Homo sapiens: one gene and its partner. The protein of the gene in region 1 interacts with the protein of each later gene in a pairwise test. Each region holds a gene or a part of one and is shown on either strand. Other genes may lie near its edges. The genes, in order: SLC15A2 and ANKS1A.

Region 1 (3,813 bases):
TAGATATGTTAAGTGAGGGAGAAGATAAGCCAAGGTTTAATGTAGTGTTCTGAACCTTGAACAACTGGGTAGGTAGTGGGGTTATTAACTGAGCTAGTGAGGAAAAGCCAGTTTGGGGCAATGTTGATAAATTTAGTTTTGAACATGTTGCATTTTATATGTTCTTGGAATATTTAATTGGAGTTACCAAACAGTTATTTGGAAATACAGGATTAGAGCTTAGAAGAAATGTTTGCACTATAGATATAGATCTGGAGTCATTAGTATATGGGTAGCAATAAACCATGAAATGAAGATAGATAACTAAAAGCTAGAAGAGTAAGGTTAAAAAAAAAAGTGGGGTGGGGGGATAGGTTCAAACTTCAAGAAACGCCAGGATTTAAAAGACAGGCAAAGAGGAAAAGCCCACAAATGAGACTAAGAAGGAATGGCCAAAGTGGTAATAGCGTTATCTTGGATATGAAGAAGATTTCAAGAAAAGATTCATTTAGAGTGATAAATGTTCCTGAGTGGGAGATTAAGATAAGGGTGACAGATGTCTATTAAATACAACAACAAGGAGGTCACTGATACGATTAGATCAGTTATGGTAAATGGTGGAGGCTGAAGACTGATTGGAGGAGACTGAGAAGTAAATGTTACAGGATTCCTTCAGTGCTGCTTTGTCAGCCAGAAATCTCTGTGGCCACTACCGCCTCTGTCTGGGCCTTGCTCTGGCCCACTGGGCTCGCTCAGCCTGCGACTGGACTGGGCATGTAGCGAGCAGCTTCTGTGTTGGGTGCGGCATCTAGACAAGGGGAACACGGTGGCGCCCAAAAACTCGGAGATGCTAGCAATTGCAGAGTCCTAAGAGGTGTTATAGCTCCTGCTCAGGGAGTCCCAAGGTCTGAGCCCCCAGAAATGTTACAGCTGTTCACTCCTGTAGTTCAACGAGCAGGAGCATGTTACAACTCTCTCCTGTAGTCTAGCGAGCGGGAGCGTGTTACGGCTCTTTTATTCCCGCTGCCCATAGCTTGGCGAGCTGCCCAGGGGTGTCACAGCCCTTTCATTCCCATCACCCACAGCTCAGCAAGTTCCGGGTTCTTGTCCCATGATGAAGAGGAATGGGGTGTGTGGACACCAGAGAGTGAGTAAAGCAGAGAAGAATTTTATTGAGTGGCAGAAGGAAAGCTCTGAGCTCCTAGAGGGGACCCGAAGTAGGTAGCCGTCTGTGAGGCTTAGTGTGGGTTTTTTATGGGTTTTGAATGGGGGAGTACATGCTGATTGGTCCATGGGTGGGTTTGGAAAAAGTACCACTAGATTGGTTAAAAGGCATCATCCAAAAGGAACCAATGGAGAGAGAGGATAAGACGGAGATAGAAGTTCTCACTCAGGTCATGGACTCTATCAGGAACCGGCAAGTCGGTTTTCAGGCTTTAAACTGTCTTTGGCTTGAAGGTCGGGTTTCACTGGGACCCGTCCGTGTCTGCCTAGGAATTTATCTGTCTCTTGTCACTATCAGTAAGAAAGTGAAATAGTATTTATAGTTGGAAGGTGACATGGATTCAAGAGAGGATATTGAGCATGTGTGAATATTATTAGGAATAATCCAGTGGAGAAAGAGGTTGAAGATACAAGATAAAGACAGTATAATCAGTATGAAAACACATATGAGCAAATTAGCTGCGGATAGGAGGAGGAATATCACCTTCACCTACCTGGAGGGAGGACAGGATGAGTGTGGATACAAGAATTAATAGATCTGGTGGCAGGGAGTTGAAGGAGTTTCCATTTGAAGGTTTCCATTTTCTTTGTGAAGTAAGAGGCAACATCATCTACTAGAAGGAGTAGATAGTAGAGAAATTCAAGGTTTATACTCATCTTCTTTAGTTAAGTGTCTTTGACATGTAAGTATGACTTTAGTTGATTACATAAGTCTTCCTATTATCACTCCACTGTCACTATTGCAACCAGCATTCCTGTGGTGTCCAGCCTCTTTCTAGGATCATTCTTAGTTTCAGGAGCAGTTTATTCCCTACCCAAAATTTTCCTTTGTCCAGGTATCTCTTTTTTTGTTTTTTATTTTTTACTTTTTTTGGAGACATAGTCTCACTGTGTCAGCAGGCTGGAGTGTGGTGGCGCAATCTCAGCTCACTGCAACCTCCGCCTCTGAGGTTCAAGTGATTCTCCTGCCTTAGCGCCTAAGTAGCTGGGACTACAGGTGCGCACCACCACGCCCAGCTAATTTTTGTATTTTTAGCAGAGATGGGGTTTCACCATGTTGGCCAGGTTGGTCAGCTCAATCTCTCGACCTTGTAATCCATCCGCCTTAGCCTTCCAAACTGCTAAGTTTACGGGTGTGAGCCACCGCGCCCAGCCGTCTAGGTACTTTTTTATCTGCCCACTTGACTCTCAGGATTAGCATTCCTCCACTGAACTATTTTTTCTATCAACCATGAGAAGGGTATTATAGATAAAGGATGCTATTTGGAGAAGCTTTGGGGAAATTGAGAGGATGAATGAGAAAAAGTGGTAGAGTGAATCTAAATGAGACGAATGGAGATATTAAAAAGTGATGGGAGAGAAAAGTAAAGTGATTTGTGCATTCTGATGTGTAAGGATACTGGAAAATGCTACTTGTCACTGAGAAAATCATCTTTAGCAGAGGATCTACTAGAGGGGCATCACGCTGAAGCTGGGAAATCCGTTAAGGAGGAAAGTGCATCTGGGAGGGAACCAAGATGGAGTATTTCTACTGATTTTAATTGAATGAAATTGAAAAAACCACTATTTTATAACTACAAAGGTAATACCAGCTCATTGTTAATTTGGAAAATAAAAGGAAAATTAAAGAAATGAAATTCCCTTACAATTAGCTGTGGATATGTGGTTAAAGGACAGAGATATGGGCTGAAAGAAACAGAATGAGCTCAAGAACAGAAATAGTATAGAACAGAAGTGTTTGTATAAATGATGAATAGTGTTTACAGCATAGGGTATCTCAAAAAGATAGATGAAATATAAAGTGGGAAACGGCAGGTTGAGGTGAACTCCTTTGAGGACAGGGACCTTGTTTTTTTCACCTGTGTTACCAGTAGTGTCTAGTACAGTATGTGGTGTAAGAATTAGTGAGTGAGATGCATTATAAGGATTAAATACATAGATTTTTGAGTCAGTCAAGCCTCAGGTCAAAAGTCCAGTTCTGGTATCTTCTAGCAGTGTAACCTTGTACAAGGTGCTTAATTTCCTTAATATTCCTTCATGTATAAAATAGAGATAGTGGTACATATTTTGTCAAGCTAAATCAATTAATGTATGTAAAATGCTTAACAAGTTACATGTGATAAACCTTCAAATAGATGTTAGGGATAACAATAACCATTAGGATAACAATGAATTTGGGAAGGTCTTTCATGCCAGGAGTTTGGGTCAGGTAAGTATTAATAGATCCTGGAAAGAAACATTTGGCATCAGATTAAAGAAGGAAGAGACTAGGGAATGAGAAACTAGTTGGTGGCCATTTTAATAATCCAAAGTACAAGTTGTGAAGTCCTGAACAAGAGTGGTAGCAGTAGTAAAGTGAAAGAGGGGGCAAATAGGCAATACGTTAAAGAAAGAGGACCAATAAAACTTGGTAACATTTCAGATATGGAGATGGAGAAAGAAGAGTAAGAAGTCAAAGATGACTTCCACTTCTGTGATTACATGAAAGTCTCAATAGATATCTCTCTTAACAACATACCATTTTGTCTTCTCTTGGCTCCTGCAATTTTGATAACTCCAAAAGTCAGGAAATGTAAGTCAGCTCCCTCTTTATGAGATTTGCCAGCCACT
Region 2 (3,965 bases), on another chromosome or scaffold:
TGAGGAGGAAGGCCTTCCGTAGAACCAACGAGGAGGCGGCCTGTGCCCTGCACACACGGCGCACCTTCTTCCCTCACAGAACAGAGCTGCTGGAGGACAGGGACCTGGACCAAGTGGCCTCCATTGTCCTCTGGGAGCTTTCTGACACTCTCCACGGTGGGGGATCACAGATAGACAGCGCCGTCCAGCATGCCCCTGACCACCTCCCTCAGCCTCCTGACTCCTCCGAAAGGAGAGGCCGTCCCATCGCAGCAGCTCAGAAGCTGGGATGGTGGAGCTGAGTCTTTGAAGAGGCACCCCATTCTCCAGTGTGGGCAAATCAGTTTGGATGGCAGGAGACAGGAAGGAAGCGGCGCCCATAGGCAGCCGTGCACACATAGCAGAGTCCACTAGGAAAGCCAGTCGGCCAGGGCAGTCAAAACCCAAGTCGATAAACTGGGTGGGTCCTGCGTACCCACCCATCCTTGTGCCTTCCTGAGCAGAGTCACTGAGCCAGAGGCAGTGGGGGCTGCAGGCTGTGGGTGCTCAAAGCAGGCATGGAGGGTGCCCCGGGGAGGCTGTGAGGGATCGTCTGTCCTGCTCTGTGTTTCCTTTCCATTTCCTCCACCGTCCGCAGGCCCCATTGGTTAACCCTTTCCTCCCCCCATTGTTTGCTTCTGCCAAGCTGAGCCACTGAGGAACCACACTGTGCTGCGGAAACATAGACGTGGGGGCATAGGCTCCCACTGCCACCACCGCCATCGCCTCACCTGCAGCTCTGAAGACCCAGGCCTCACCTCCGCCTGCAGGACCTCCTCTTGGCCACTTGGCCTGGGCCTGCCACCACCACGTCCTGCAGAACGAGCCCTGCCTTGGCTGTGGAGAAGCACTCCAGGCCGCTAGCAGATGGGACTGGCATTCCAGAGGGTCAAGAAGTGACTTGTTCAGAACACATTGTTTTTAACAGAAAAAAAATCTTTTTATAAAATGAACTTTTAACACTTGGCTCAAACCTCTAGGTCATACTGCCAATCTTTAGACAAATGGCCATGGGGCAGAGGACAGGGGAGCTGAGGTTGGTTCAGAGGCCAGCCTGCATAGCCTCTGTCCTCAGGACGGAACTTGGGTGCAGCTCAGTGGGTCGGAAGAGAAGGCGGTGGCCTGTGGGTGAGGGGAACGGAGCAGGCTCAGGCAGAATTGAGTACGGTGCGTCTGCTTTTCAAACCCAACCATATCAGCTGCTGCTCTTTATGAACTGCCCAACTTCCTGTCCCTTTCAGGGGCTAGACACAGGCTTCTCGTAAGAACACAGCCTTAGAGGCACCTGAGCAACTCAAAGGTTTCCGGTCCATTTCTGGGGTTCCCGATGGGAAGGTTCAGTGGCCAAATGAAGATAAGTGTGCAGTTTCTAGTGCTGGGAAGTCTTAGCCAGCACCAGAGCGCCAGGCCTCTCCCTGGCCTCTTACCTGTCAGTGATCGGAGCACTGCCCTGGGCTGGCCGGCGCCGTACTGCCTGCGTTGTGTCAGAGAATAGGAAAAGCAGCTTTGTTTGGGGCATTAATGCTTGGAGTGGGGTCAGCTAAGGTTGCTACTTGCCAATTTGTGATTTGTCTAATCAGCCTGTGTGATTGGGGCTCATTTTGATTCTCTGAATTATCGGTTTGACGGTTACACTTGGCTGCTGGGCCCATCCCTGGCCCCCGGTGTGGAAAAGGCTAAATAAGGTGACAGTGCATCGATGCTCCCCCGCGTGGCCTTTGGGGCAGGCTGGCATCCCGGTGCGCCTCTGCTTCTTAAGCTTTCCTGCTGCTCGCTTTGTTTTTAAAAGTAACTTGGGTTGCATTCTTCCCTCTGGACTAGAGTAGAAATGCAGGGGAAACTGCTGTGGATTTGAGAGGCAAAGTTGGCTCAGCTGTGTGCCCAGTTCCTCCTGTGGGCACTTTAGCAGGCTCCGAGCTTTCCTGGCATAGGTCAATCAGGTCCCAGGATGAATAATCCAGGCTTCAGCAACACTCCTCTTTCCCAGCCAGCAAAGGCTGTGAATTTGAATTCTTTGTTGGTATGTATGTGCAGGGAGTACTGTTAGGCACATTCTTAACCCATGTGGTTGGCCAGAAATCAGAAGTGGGGCTGTGTCTCTGACTGGCTAGAGGCCAGGCCTTGTGGGTTTCTATCTGCTAAGCACCCAGCAGGTTGGGGCCTGGGACTCAGCTCTCTCTGCGGTAGAGGCAGGCCCTCCTCCACTTCTTGGTACTAAACGAAGATCTCGACACCTTGCAGTTTTACTTCATTTCCTGCCCCTTTCAGGGCCTGTGAGGATGCCCATGAGCTACCGCTGTACAGTTCTCGGCCCCGGCTTTCTTCCAAGAGTTGACCAGGAACCCTAAAGCATCCAGAGTAGACTGCGCTGCCACTGCGCACATGCTGGTGCCCGTCTTCCTCCTAAGGGGCCAGGCCACATCCAAGTGGGCCTCTGTCGGGGGCGGGGCGGTAGGTCCGAAAGAAACCGCAGACACTACGATGCACTCCTCAAGCTGTCTTTTGTGCTTAGATCATCCATAGGTGTTTCTTCTGCTTGAAGCTGCTATATCATCTTTATTTATTCAGGGTATTTTCATATTGGAAGCCTTGGCTAGTCTGCTCTAGCTCTGGGTTCTGTTTAGAGATTGGTTTATTTCTGAATATTCAAGAAAGGAAAATGACTGGGCCTTTCTTTCTTTTCTTCTCCTCTGGGATGGGTAGTCTCCCTTTCCTAGAAAGGTTATTATAACTTTAAGGACAGGCTTCAAGTGGGAAGGCCCCTACTTTTGCACTTCTCCAAGTGCAGGTCACACCAGGGGCAGACCCTGTCGCTGCGTTTCTGAACTGTGAAGGAGCCCATTCGGGTGGGAGACTTCAGATGGGCTCAGTACCTGTCCCAGCCACAGGCTTCTTGTCCACCTCTTCTCCCCTGCCCACCAGCTGCTCAGCGCATAAGACCTTCCCGACAGGCTCTGCGTGTGCAGCTCTCTGCGTCCCTCCTGGGCCCTCCAGCGTCAGACACTAATGGGAGTTCCCGAGATGCTCGGGTTTGAGCAGGGAGCAGGCAGAGCTGCAGTCAGAGACATTAGAAAACCAGTCTGAATTGGGTCTGTCTTTGAGATGCCCAGGCCAGCAGAAAGCAGCTCAGAAGTATTGTTGCTCATGGTGTGGCAATGGACTGAACTGTAATGAAAATGTTATTTAATCTTTGTCTCTGTATTTTGATACTTGAATGACTTTCCCTTTTGTTTTACTGTATATAAAATTGTTAATCTGTCTGATTTTGTCTGAATTATAAACACTTTGAGGTACCAAACATAACCAATCTGTGCAACAACATAGACTGACCTCAGTACCCAAGAGAGTGTAAATATTTCTGGGCTTCCAGCTTTGGTTTTGTTATTTTCATAACTGTACACAACTTAGAACAGACTGAATTAATAAATGAGAAGCGACATGAACGCAGCCTTAATTCTTCTGAGTCTTTGAATTGGAAAGCGTCTTGATGGTTTTCTGGCAGAGGCGTGGGCACAGGCGAGACGCAGGCTCAGGATCAGTGATTCGCATCCTACACCGTTTGGCTGAGATGACGACAGCTTGGCTGTTTGGCTTTCTGTCTCGCACTCTCTAACAAACAGTTAGTTACAGCTGTGCTGTGAGGCGCAAGGGCCCCAGGATTCACCTTCCCCTCCTTAGGAACATCGTTCTGTGAACACCAAGCCAGGGCCACATTCTAGTTACTGCTGCAGTGGCATCTCTTCTGCCTCTTGGTCTGGGCTTGTCCACCCATAGACATGAACCGAACATCTGCCTCCCAGGCAGCCTGGGGGATCTAGAGCTGTGAAAGAAAGTGCTCTCCTTTCAGGAACTTGCTTGGATTGCAGAGGTTAAGTTTTAGACATAAACAACTAGCTACCAGCCCGAAGCCGTGCTATGGTAGGGATGCAGAGGGCAAAGTGTTCCCA

What was found.
Region 2: the proteins of SLC15A2 (region 1) and ANKS1A interact in a two-hybrid assay, tested with the Homo sapiens proteins (one large-scale study listed by BioGRID).

The regions. Positions count from the first base shown.
Region 1 is NC_000003.12:121,918,238-121,922,050, forward strand, and holds part of SLC15A2 (solute carrier family 15 member 2), read left to right. Parts: intron 1-3,813. UniProt on the Homo sapiens protein: Proton-coupled amino-acid transporter that transports oligopeptides of 2 to 4 amino acids with a preference for dipeptides. Transports neutral and anionic dipeptides with a proton to peptide stoichiometry of 2:1 or 3:1.
Region 2 is NC_000006.12:35,087,942-35,091,906, forward strand, and holds the end of ANKS1A (ankyrin repeat and SAM domain-containing protein 1A), read left to right. Parts: exon of another isoform or gene 1-658; intron 659-664; coding exon 665-668; 3' UTR 669-3,465; downstream 3,466-3,965. UniProt on the Homo sapiens protein: Regulator of different signaling pathways. Regulates EPHA8 receptor tyrosine kinase signaling to control cell migration and neurite retraction.